Homo sapiens: one gene and its partner. The protein of the gene in region 2 purifies or fractionates together with the protein of the main gene of each other region. This does not show direct contact. Each region holds a gene or a part of one and is shown on either strand. Other genes may lie near its edges.

The links.
Region 1: the proteins of PLXNB1 (region 2) and SMPX purify together in Homo sapiens (affinity purification with mass spectrometry; 2 studies listed by BioGRID and IntAct, with this or other methods). This does not show direct contact.

The regions. Positions count from the first base shown.
Region 1 is NC_000023.11:21,706,117-21,713,116, reverse strand, and holds part of SMPX (small muscular protein), read left to right. Parts: intron 1-2,418; exon of another isoform or gene 2,419-2,431; intron 2,432-6,722; 3' UTR 6,723-7,000. UniProt on the Homo sapiens protein: Plays a role in the regulatory network through which muscle cells coordinate their structural and functional states during growth, adaptation, and repair.
Region 2 is NC_000003.12:48,403,334-48,406,231, forward strand, and holds the end of PLXNB1 (plexin-B1 precursor), read right to left. Parts: intron 2,466-2,898; coding exon 2,391-2,465; exon of another isoform or gene 2,390-2,390; intron 1,258-2,389; coding exon 1,153-1,257; 3' UTR 521-1,152; downstream 1-520. UniProt on the Homo sapiens protein: Receptor for SEMA4D. Plays a role in GABAergic synapse development. Mediates SEMA4A- and SEMA4D-dependent inhibitory synapse development. Plays a role in RHOA activation and subsequent changes of the actin cytoskeleton.

The DNA of each region.
Region 1 (7,000 bases), on a different chromosome or scaffold from region 2:
TACTGAGTCTTTGGACCACTCATTACCATCATTGTGACTGTGAAAACAATCAATCAATCAGCTTTAAGGTGATCACTATGACAATGTGCTTTCCAGGTATGCATTATGGGAAGAAGGCAGGGAGGCCTACATTTGTTTCACATGTTCTGTTAGTTAAATGCCAAAAAAATTAGTTTTCCATTTGGTTGCTCCAGAACCCCTGGCTGCCACAGATCATTGCTGGACAGTTGTAGGAGGATTCTTGGTACTTCTGATACAATCACCATTGTCTCTATGCCTTGAATGCCAAGGCATAAACAATATAGAAAGATGTTGTCATCTTTGGAAAAGCTGAGAACCTCTTGGTTAAGACAGCAGTCTCCTTGACTTATTTATCACTTTGTCTACTTCTAGATGTTATTGAACTCTGCCTTGGTAGGGAAATCTTGGGTCAATATTTCTCCAATGAAGTCGGTGGCCCCTTTAGAGACAGGGAGGACTGGGTTCTGATGGATGAAGAGAAATTTCCCACAAAATCTGGAGCTGCCTGTGGTGACTGGTCTTTGATGATGCCCCTTTCCCCACCAAGATCTCACCAAACAAATGTATCTCAGTTGCCAGCCCCTAACTCTGAGTTGATATCCAATATAACAAACTCTCAATACAATAGGATTAATAAAAAATATTTTAATGAGATTCAACCTGGATATGCAATTTGCCTTTTCCTTATGGTCACTCGAATTATCCCGGTCCTGCACTTAACGCTACTTTAATCTGGATTTCAGGTGCAGGATTTGACCAAGGCAAATGTTCTGGTCTTTATGTCTTCCTCTTCTTCCGTTTTTATATAATTATTGTTAGAAGGATTTCAATTTTCATTTTAACCACCGAAGGCTTCATGAGTTGCAAAGGCAACTTTGGTGGATGTTTCACAATTTAGGAAAAAATGTTCCTAATTTTTACTTAGAGTTTTGTTTCTCTGACTTTACAAGTATCTGTTTGGGAAAAAAGAAAGAGTTTTGGGTTTGGAGTTGTTTGGGTGCAATTCTAGGCTGAGCGCCTCTCTGAGCTTGGGTGTGTGTTGTTCCTTACAAGCCTTAGTTGTAGCTTGCACCACCTTCCTTAGGGTGTGGTCCTGATGAGTAAAAGGGACAATATGTGTGAATGTGCTCTGTAAACTCTAGAAGACTTTACAAATGCCAGGCGTTTGTCTTATTTCTGATGCCCTCTAAGGAACTCCAGAGCTTTAACCAGTTTGCTCTGGGTGCATGGTTGGCCATTGCATATGGAACCAGACCATGAGCCACTGCCTTCTCTCAAGTACTTTCGAGTGTCACTGTGTTTATGGCTCTATGATTTAGCACCACATAGGAGGAAGTAATCATTGCACTGCCCCTGAGTGTCTGGTTAAAGGACAAAATGCAGACAAGTGTTGAGTGGACTCCATTTCCCACATGATGTAAGTGGGGCCACGGCAACTATGAGTTACACAGCTATAAATGGGTCACAGCAAGGCGTAAACATCACATGTTCCTCAGTCTGGACTTAGGGTGACACAAGGGAGATATTTGGTGTATCATCCCCACACCAGCCAAGATGTGCCCTTCCCAAATGTAAACTAGAGGTTTTGCTTCCATGTCATTTTTGGTCTGGGTATAAAAGTTACGTGGGGTAGCTAGAGAATGACTTTTCAGCTGGTTGCCATACCTTCCCCATCATTCTCACAAATGTCCCCATACAGGAGAACAGGGCACAGGAGAATAGCTGACAGCTGTTGTCTAGGCAGCAAAGCAGCGTGGCCCTGGAGACAGCCCAATACACTTGCATTCCAACACCCTGACAAACAAGAGTGCTTTACAGAGTGGGCAATTTTAGCTCTGGATCCCTTCCCATTGTTTCTCATTTCTAAATTCAAGCCCTGACACAGAGCAGGGAGCTCAGGTATCTGGATTCCCGAATTTTTGTATTCTGGTATCATGCCAGCATCCCGAGCACATGCTGAGTCCCACAAAGCCAAGGATGGAGACTCTGGCCGTCTGGGGACTTTGTACTCTGGGATGGACTATATCTGACGTTATCCATCAGTGCATTCCTGTTTCCAGGCATGTTGGGCCTTCTTGAATTCTACCGGGACCCGGGAGTGGGGGAAGCTGAGGGACAGGGTGATCTGCAGGAGGACACCTGCAATGGCTCCTGCTTCATCTGCCACCTCATGCCTGGCTCCTTCTGCAAAGAAGAATCAGGTTTATTTTGTAGGCTGAACAAGGTAGCTGTGTAATCAGTTGGTGGAGTTCCTGGCACGTAGTAGGTGCTCAAAACTGGTACTGCCACCATCAGCTGTTTCTCCACTCCCACATGAGCACAGGTTGATAGCACTGGCCCAGCTTCCCCCTCTTCACAGTTGTATTCAGGCCTCCCTTGGCTCTCAGCTGCAGTAAGTAAAGAGGAAGAGCACAGTTCCCCTGGGGCTAATGTTATGTTAAGAATTCCATGCATTTATTTTCCTAAATATGGTCATCTCACAGTGGTCGTGGTGGTCTGGGAAAACTGGATCAAGATTTCTCTGTTTTTAAAAAAAATTTTATTTTCATAGCTTTTGGGGTACAAGTGGATTTTTTGTAACACAGATGAATTGTATAGTGATGAATTCTGAGATTTTAGTGCCCCCGTCACCTGAGTAGTGTCCATTGTACCTAATATGTTGTTTTTATCCCTAGCTCCTCTCCCACCCTTCCCCTTCTGAGGCTCTAAAGTCCATTATATCACTCTGTATACCTTTGCATACTCATAGTTTAGCTTCACTTATGAGAACATACAATTTTTTGTTTTCCACTCCTGTGTTACTTCACTTAGAATAATGACCTTCAGCTCCATCCAAGTTGCTGCAAAAGACATTATTTCATTCCTTTTTATAGATGAGTAGTATTTCATGGGGTATATATACCACATTTTCTTTATCCATTCATTAGTTCTCTATGTTTATAAAACTGTCTCAAAGTCAGAGAGGCCTATAAGCTGAACCCAGTCGTGAAGGACATCTTATGACTCTCCAATGCAAATGGCTCATCCTATGTTTCTCAGTATAGCCATAATTTCACCTATCTATCTGGGACAGATAAAGGATTATCAGAGTCCATATCAAGTCTGCCATATAAATGGTACCCATTTCTGGGTTGCAGATGGTGCTTCTCAGTCTGGACACATCTTGGAGAGAAATCACACCTCATAAAACATGCTTCAGTTACAATTTCCTATGGATCATCACCCATTCCATGCTGCTCAGAGAAGCCCAAGGAATACCTCAGCTTCAAGGGAAGCTTGTCATGGGCCTCTTACTTAGCCAGAGAGACTGGCCATATGTCATCCAGCACAGTGACCATAGCAGTAAAGTGGCTACAGCATACCCTGGCCATCATGGGGCTAGAGCTGGGACCTAGGGCAGAATTGGCAGCATAGTGGAGACATAGCACATCAACCCAACACTCCTGGATTTCTGCATCTATGAGCCTTCACTCATTACTGCTGACTCACATTGAAGAATGTGGGTTTGGCTATAACTGCAACTCCAGTTCTTTTCCTATTTTCATTTCTCCAGTAGTCCAACTCATCAATCACTGGACCCCTGCTATGTGTCAGGTGCCATGATAGGCAATGGGATGTAAAAATGAATAGGACATATTTATATCCTTAAAAGATCCTAGCCTAGTGGCAGGGCAGCTATAGTGGGAAACATGAGGAGTGAGATGATGCATATAAGCAAATAATCACAATTCAGCATGTTACATGGAGAATCATGGGGAGGTTGGATTTAAAAGTTATAACCAAAGAGGCGAGGCCCAAAGGCTCTTGTCATTACAGGAGCAAAAAGTGGTCTAGTGAACTCAGAATATAGGATACTTGAGGGAGAATGACCAGAGATGAGCCTGGATCCTGATACCCCAGGATGAAGCTGTGAAATTGCTGGTCACTCAGAAACCATGGGCTGGGAAGGAAGTGGTATCTTACTTCCACTTTGTGACTGGCATGGACTGAAAATTGATAATTTCTTAAAAAAATTAGTAAACAACCTAAACGTCCATTGGTAGATGTATGAATAAAGAAAATGTGGTAACACACACACTGGAATTTTTATCCTGGAATAAGAAGGAAACTCTGCAATATGTGACAACATGGATAAACTTTGAGGACAGTATGCAAAGTAAAATAAGTCAGTCACACAAGGACAAATACTGCATGATTCCACTTATATGAGGTGGCTAAAGTAGTTAAACACATAGAATCAAAGAGTGAAGTGGTAGTTGTACAACATTGCTGTACAACATTGTACTTATGGTCAACAATAATGTATTATACACTTAAAATGTATTAAGAGAGTAAATCTCATATTGTGTTCTTTTGATAATAAGATAAAATGCTGGGGAAATACAAGAACCTATGCTGACTGCTCTTGATAGCATTTTCAGTTTTGCAATCATTAATAACTTCCTACCTTTTCCTCTGGTTCACAAACCATCCATACCTTGTTAGTGGAGTAGAAACAGCCCTAAAGTCGGGACACCTCTGTTAAAATCCCAGCTTTTCTATCTACCAGCTATGAGACTTTGAGCTAGCTACTTTGATTTTTGAACTTCTATGTATTTCATCTCAACAGTGAGTACAACACAACCTGCATCACAGCAATGCTAGAAATGTTCAATGACACTATGGGCTTTGTGATCTCTAAAGAAATATACAAGAAAGAGAAGCTTTCTTATAGAGAGATCTCTGCTATATACTTCTCTGGATTCAATGGCCAGAACTGGGTCCCATGGCTCCCCCTAGCTGTAAGAGAGACTGAGAAATAGAGTATATTATTTCACTCACCAGCCTTTGTAGTAGAGAAAAACAAGGGTTATGGAGGGTGCCAAACCAGAGTTTCTGCCCCAGCAGGGGGAATATCCTTGTGTATGTAGTTTTCTTTCTCCAGCCATTGGCAATACAAAAGGTGAGCATTCCATTTTTAAGAAAAGATTCAGCTCACTCACATAAGTAAAACACACAAGGAATGACACCAAAGACTAATGGAAAACAAATGTGTAAATAGTGTTCAAGAATCCCTGCATTACAAGAGCTTTGAAAAGAAGTGGCACCATATCAATTAGCTATTGCTGCATACCAAATCACACCCCAAATTCAATGTTTAAAACAAGATCATTTCTTATTCTAACTCATGTGTTTTGGCCTCAGCTGATATAGGTTGGGCTCAGCTGATCTTGGCTGGACTCACTGATGTGTCTGCAGGTCATCTGGGGGCTCTGCTCTACATGGGGCCTGGTTAGGGTGCTTTAGCGGGGGTGGCCCTGCTCCACATATTTCTTGTCCTTCTTCTGGGATCAGAAGGCTAACCTGGCCACACCCTTGTTATGGCAACAGCAGAAATACAAGAGTAAGCAAAAACGTGATACCTTTTGAGGCATAGGCTCAAAACTGGTACACCATCATTTCTGCCTCATTCTGTTGGCCAAAGCAAGATGTGTGGCCAAACTCAGGCATGAGGAATTATACCCCACCCACAGTGGTAGAAAACTACAAAGTTACATGGTAGTAGGGAGAGGTGAAGAACAGGAGCCATGAATGCAAATTTACCTCAGGGATCACTGGTCATACAAGCCATAATCATAAGACTAACAATATACTCTAATCCTTCAGGAGAAGCTATCTTAATTTAGTTTAGAATTACTTAAATCACTAGAGCCAAAGTTGATGGCCACAGCATCTACCCATAGTTCATTTACATTCATGGAATTGAGAGATGAAGTTTTCAAGTGAAAATGGGGTCTTCAATGTTGACTTATTCCTATCATATTGATTTATAAGCTGTCCCTAACATATCTCATGAAAATTATACTAATGATGAACCTGGAGGACATTATGCTAAGTCAAATAAGACAGTCATAGACAAATATGGCATGATCTTACTTATATGTGGCATCTAAAAACATTAAACTCATAGAGGCAGAGAGTCAAATGGTGGTTGCCAGGGGCTTGGGGTGGGGGGTGATGTGGATGGGGCGATGATGGTTAAAGAATAGACCGAATTTCAGATACATAAGAGGAATATATTCTGGAGATCTCGTATTAGTCCGTTCTCGTGCTGCTATGAAGAAATGTCTGAGACTGGGTAACTTATAAAGGAAAGAGTTTTAATTGACTCACAATTCTGCAGGGCTGGGAAGGCCTCAGAAACTTACAATCATGGCAGAAGGGGAAGCAAACACGTCCTTCTTTACATGGCAGCAGCAAAGAGAAGTGCAGAGCAAAACGGGGGAAAGCCATTATAAAATCATGAGATCTCATGAGAACTCACTCACTATCATGAGAATAGTATGGGGGGAACCGCCCTCGTGATGAAATTATCTCCATCTGGCCCCACCCTTGACATGTGGGGATTATTACAATTCAAGATGAGATTTTGGATGGGGACACAGCCAAACCATATCGGATCTATTGTACAGCATCATGACTACAGTTAATAATGTATCCTTGAAAATTGCTAAGAGATCTTAAATGTCCTCATCACAAAAATAAGTATGTGAGGTGATGGATATGCTAATTATGTTGACTTAATCATTTCACAATGTATGTATGCATATATCAAAACATTGCATTGTATACTGTAAATATATACCATTTTTATTTGTCAATTATGCCTTAATGACACTGGAGGCAAAAAACTCATGGTTCCTTTGGTTTTTCTTTTTCAGGATTGATGTGAAGAAATAAAGAGGCAGAAGATGGATTCAATAGCTCACTAAAATTTTATATATTTGTATGATGATTGTGAACCTCCTGAATGCCTGAGACTCTAGCAGAAATGGCCTGTTTGTACATTTATATCTCTTCCTTCTAGTTGGCTGTATTTCTTACTTTATCTTCATTTTTGGCACCTCACAGAACAAATTAGCCCATAAATTCAACACCTGGAGGGTGTGGTTTTGAGGAGGGATATGATTTTATGGAGAATGATATGGCAATGTGCCTA
Region 2 (2,898 bases):
CACCTCCAGGTACAAATCAGGAAGAACCATATAAGGCGGCCTTCATGGAGGCAGACAGTTTAGGAGCCGGCCCTAGGATGCCCTGATTTGGAAGGCAACACAGAAACCCTAAGTCCAGGAACAGGACCATGGAAAATGGCCCTCGAGACCCCCTCTGCCTAGAGTTGCCTGTAATTATGTCATCCTTTCCTAGTCCCTTTCAAGATAAATAGAACATGAGTGGAGAAGTGAGAATACGCAAACTGCAGATAAAGCAGGCCCCCTTGAAGAGACTGTAGACCCCTCTATCTCGGTCACCCGCCCTGCCCCAGATGGGGTTCTTCCTTCACGGAAGCTTTGACCCCACCAGACCCTGCCCAGGCGTCAAGGAGAGCCTCAGCCAGCCCTGCAGTCTGGGATATGATGGGGAACCATGAGACTCCCCAAGAGTATAGATACCACCTCCCCCTGGTACCTGCTGGGCATAGCTGCCGTCCTCCTAGTAGCCAGGGGCTAGGCCGGGCTCACACATCAGACTCAGTGCAGTGTGTTATCCTTTAATGAAAAGCTGGGTCAATGGAGTCACCACTCTCCCCAAGACCCCCCTGCAGCAGATAGCCCTCACCATGGCTACCTATGAGGCAGGGCAGCCCTGTGGCAGCCAGCCCTGCTGAGGGGTCAGTTTGTAGTGGCCTAGGAGAGGCGTTCAACTCTTAGACCTAGGATGTGGCAGCAGCAACAAGGCCAGAGGCAGCTCAACTGAGGTCAGGGATGGTGGAGGAGGCAGACAGGAAGCATGGGGCTCTCCTCCTTCCTCTCCGAATCCCAGTGTGGCCAAGGCCAGTGTTCAGGAACAGTACAGTCTCCCCAGGGGCCTGGAGTCTCTTCCAGCCACTCTCTGGAAGCCCTTAGTCCCCAACTCCCTGCAGACCGGTGTCACAGGGTCGCTGGACTCGGGGAGCAGGCTGGGTACTACCCCATGAGCCTTGAGGCCCCGGGTCTAGGAGGTGGATCCAGCAGGGCCGAGGCCAGAGCCACCAGGAGACTGGGAGTCACCTTCCACTAACTCTGCTTGTCAGTCACTACAGGCACCTAAGAAGGTGGCCTCTCCTCCGAGCTTCCAGGGCTGCCCAGGCCAGGCTGAAGCAACAGCAGGCCGTGGCTCCTGGGTTCCTATAGATCTGTGACCTTGTTTTCCACAGCAGCTGCAATCTGCTGGAGCCGATAGCCCAGCTGCATCTTCTGGGCCGTGCCATCCTCCTCCAGGGCAGTGATGATCTGAAACAGAGACCAATGCCATCAGGGGAGACTTCTTTGGCCAACGTGTTTGCTGCAAAATTCAACAGCCCTCCTAAGACGCTGTGGCATGAGTGGGGTAGGAGGCCAAGAAACCCAGCCGGTCACTTCACGTACTTTCTGGGACCTCAGGGCCTCGCTGGCGGGAGGGGTAATAACATCAAAGTCACCGCGGGGTTCCAGGATGAATAAGGTAGGAAATGAAGGACCTGACTCAGTAGCGAGCTCCTCAGAAGCCCTGCTGCAGCCATCCTGGCTAACCCACCCGCCAGCCAACAGTATTTCCCAAGTTCCTGTCTGCCCGGTGCCAGACAAGGGGCAGAGACCCAAGAATGACCAGACACGTGGTGGGAAAACAGACACTGATCAAACACGAACCACGAATTTGGGGCTGCCACCAAGGGAACCGGTAGGAACCGGAGGGCAGCAGCACTTGGGAAAACAGCTACTGCCCACTATGTCTCCACAAGGGGACATGCCTGCATCACACCCTGCCTCCCCCAAGCCCCGTGCCATGGCCCACACCATGCCGAGGAAGGCTGTGGGCCATGAGACAGGTTCCTCATCTCTGAGCAGCAATAGCCATGTCACTGGTGCCACACAAACATCTAAGTGGACTATTCCACCAGGCATCCAGCAGGTTGACTGGCAGGTGCTCAGCTCTTCAGGCACAGCCCAGGGATCCTCCAAAAAGCTTCACCAGCTCCAGTGTACCCTCACACCCCTGGCCCTGTGCCTGGACTCTCCTCTTCGCAGCTCATGCAGCCAAGCCAGGCCTGCACTTGCATGTTGGCCGTGCCCAACATGCTGCCAACTCAGCAAATGCACACCATCTCCAGGCCCTGGTAGACCCCTTGGCCCCCACAACCACCAGCACTGTGCCTCGCCGTCCTGCTGGGGAGCTGGAATGGGGAGCAGTGGGACAGGTGAGAGCACAGCCAATGCCAGGAAGCCCGCCTGGAAAACACTTCTCAAGCCACCAAGGGGCCCGGCCCCCCACTACTCTGTCCCTGGGGAAGACCAAAGCCCCCAACGTGAGTCACAGGGTCAGAGCCCCTTAAGTCTCCTGGGAGGCCTTGGGTCAGCCTCCCAGTCGGGGTCCAGGGCCTGCCCACCTGGTCATAGTACTTGTTGATGTACTTGTAGAGTTCATGCAGGGCCACTCGCGCCCCGAGGTCTCCGGAGTAGTTCTAGGGAAGAGGCCAAATGAAAGGTGAGAGAGACGAGGGGTGCAGAGAGCCACAGGAGGCAGCCCAGGACCCCAGGGAAGGGCTGGGGGAGAAGGGGACCTGAGAGGTAGAGAATGGGATGGGCACTACAGTGGGAAGCAGAGTCCCCTCCATGGCCCAGGGACCCCAGGCCAGGTGTGCCAGATGGGGACAGAACAGGGTAGAGCAAGGGGGCCTCCTTGGTAGGAAGACAGCCCAGGTCTACCTGCTTCAGCAAGGTCTGGGGTTTCCACTGAAGCCCTGCCTCTCTCACCCCCTTGAGGTTCTAGCCCAGACCCTCTGCCACCCAGATGACTCCAGAGCCAAGTGGCACAGATGCCACTTGCAGGCTGACAGCCCAGCATGATTCTGCTCTGGCCTAACTCAAGTATTTCCTGAGGTCACTCTCAGGCCC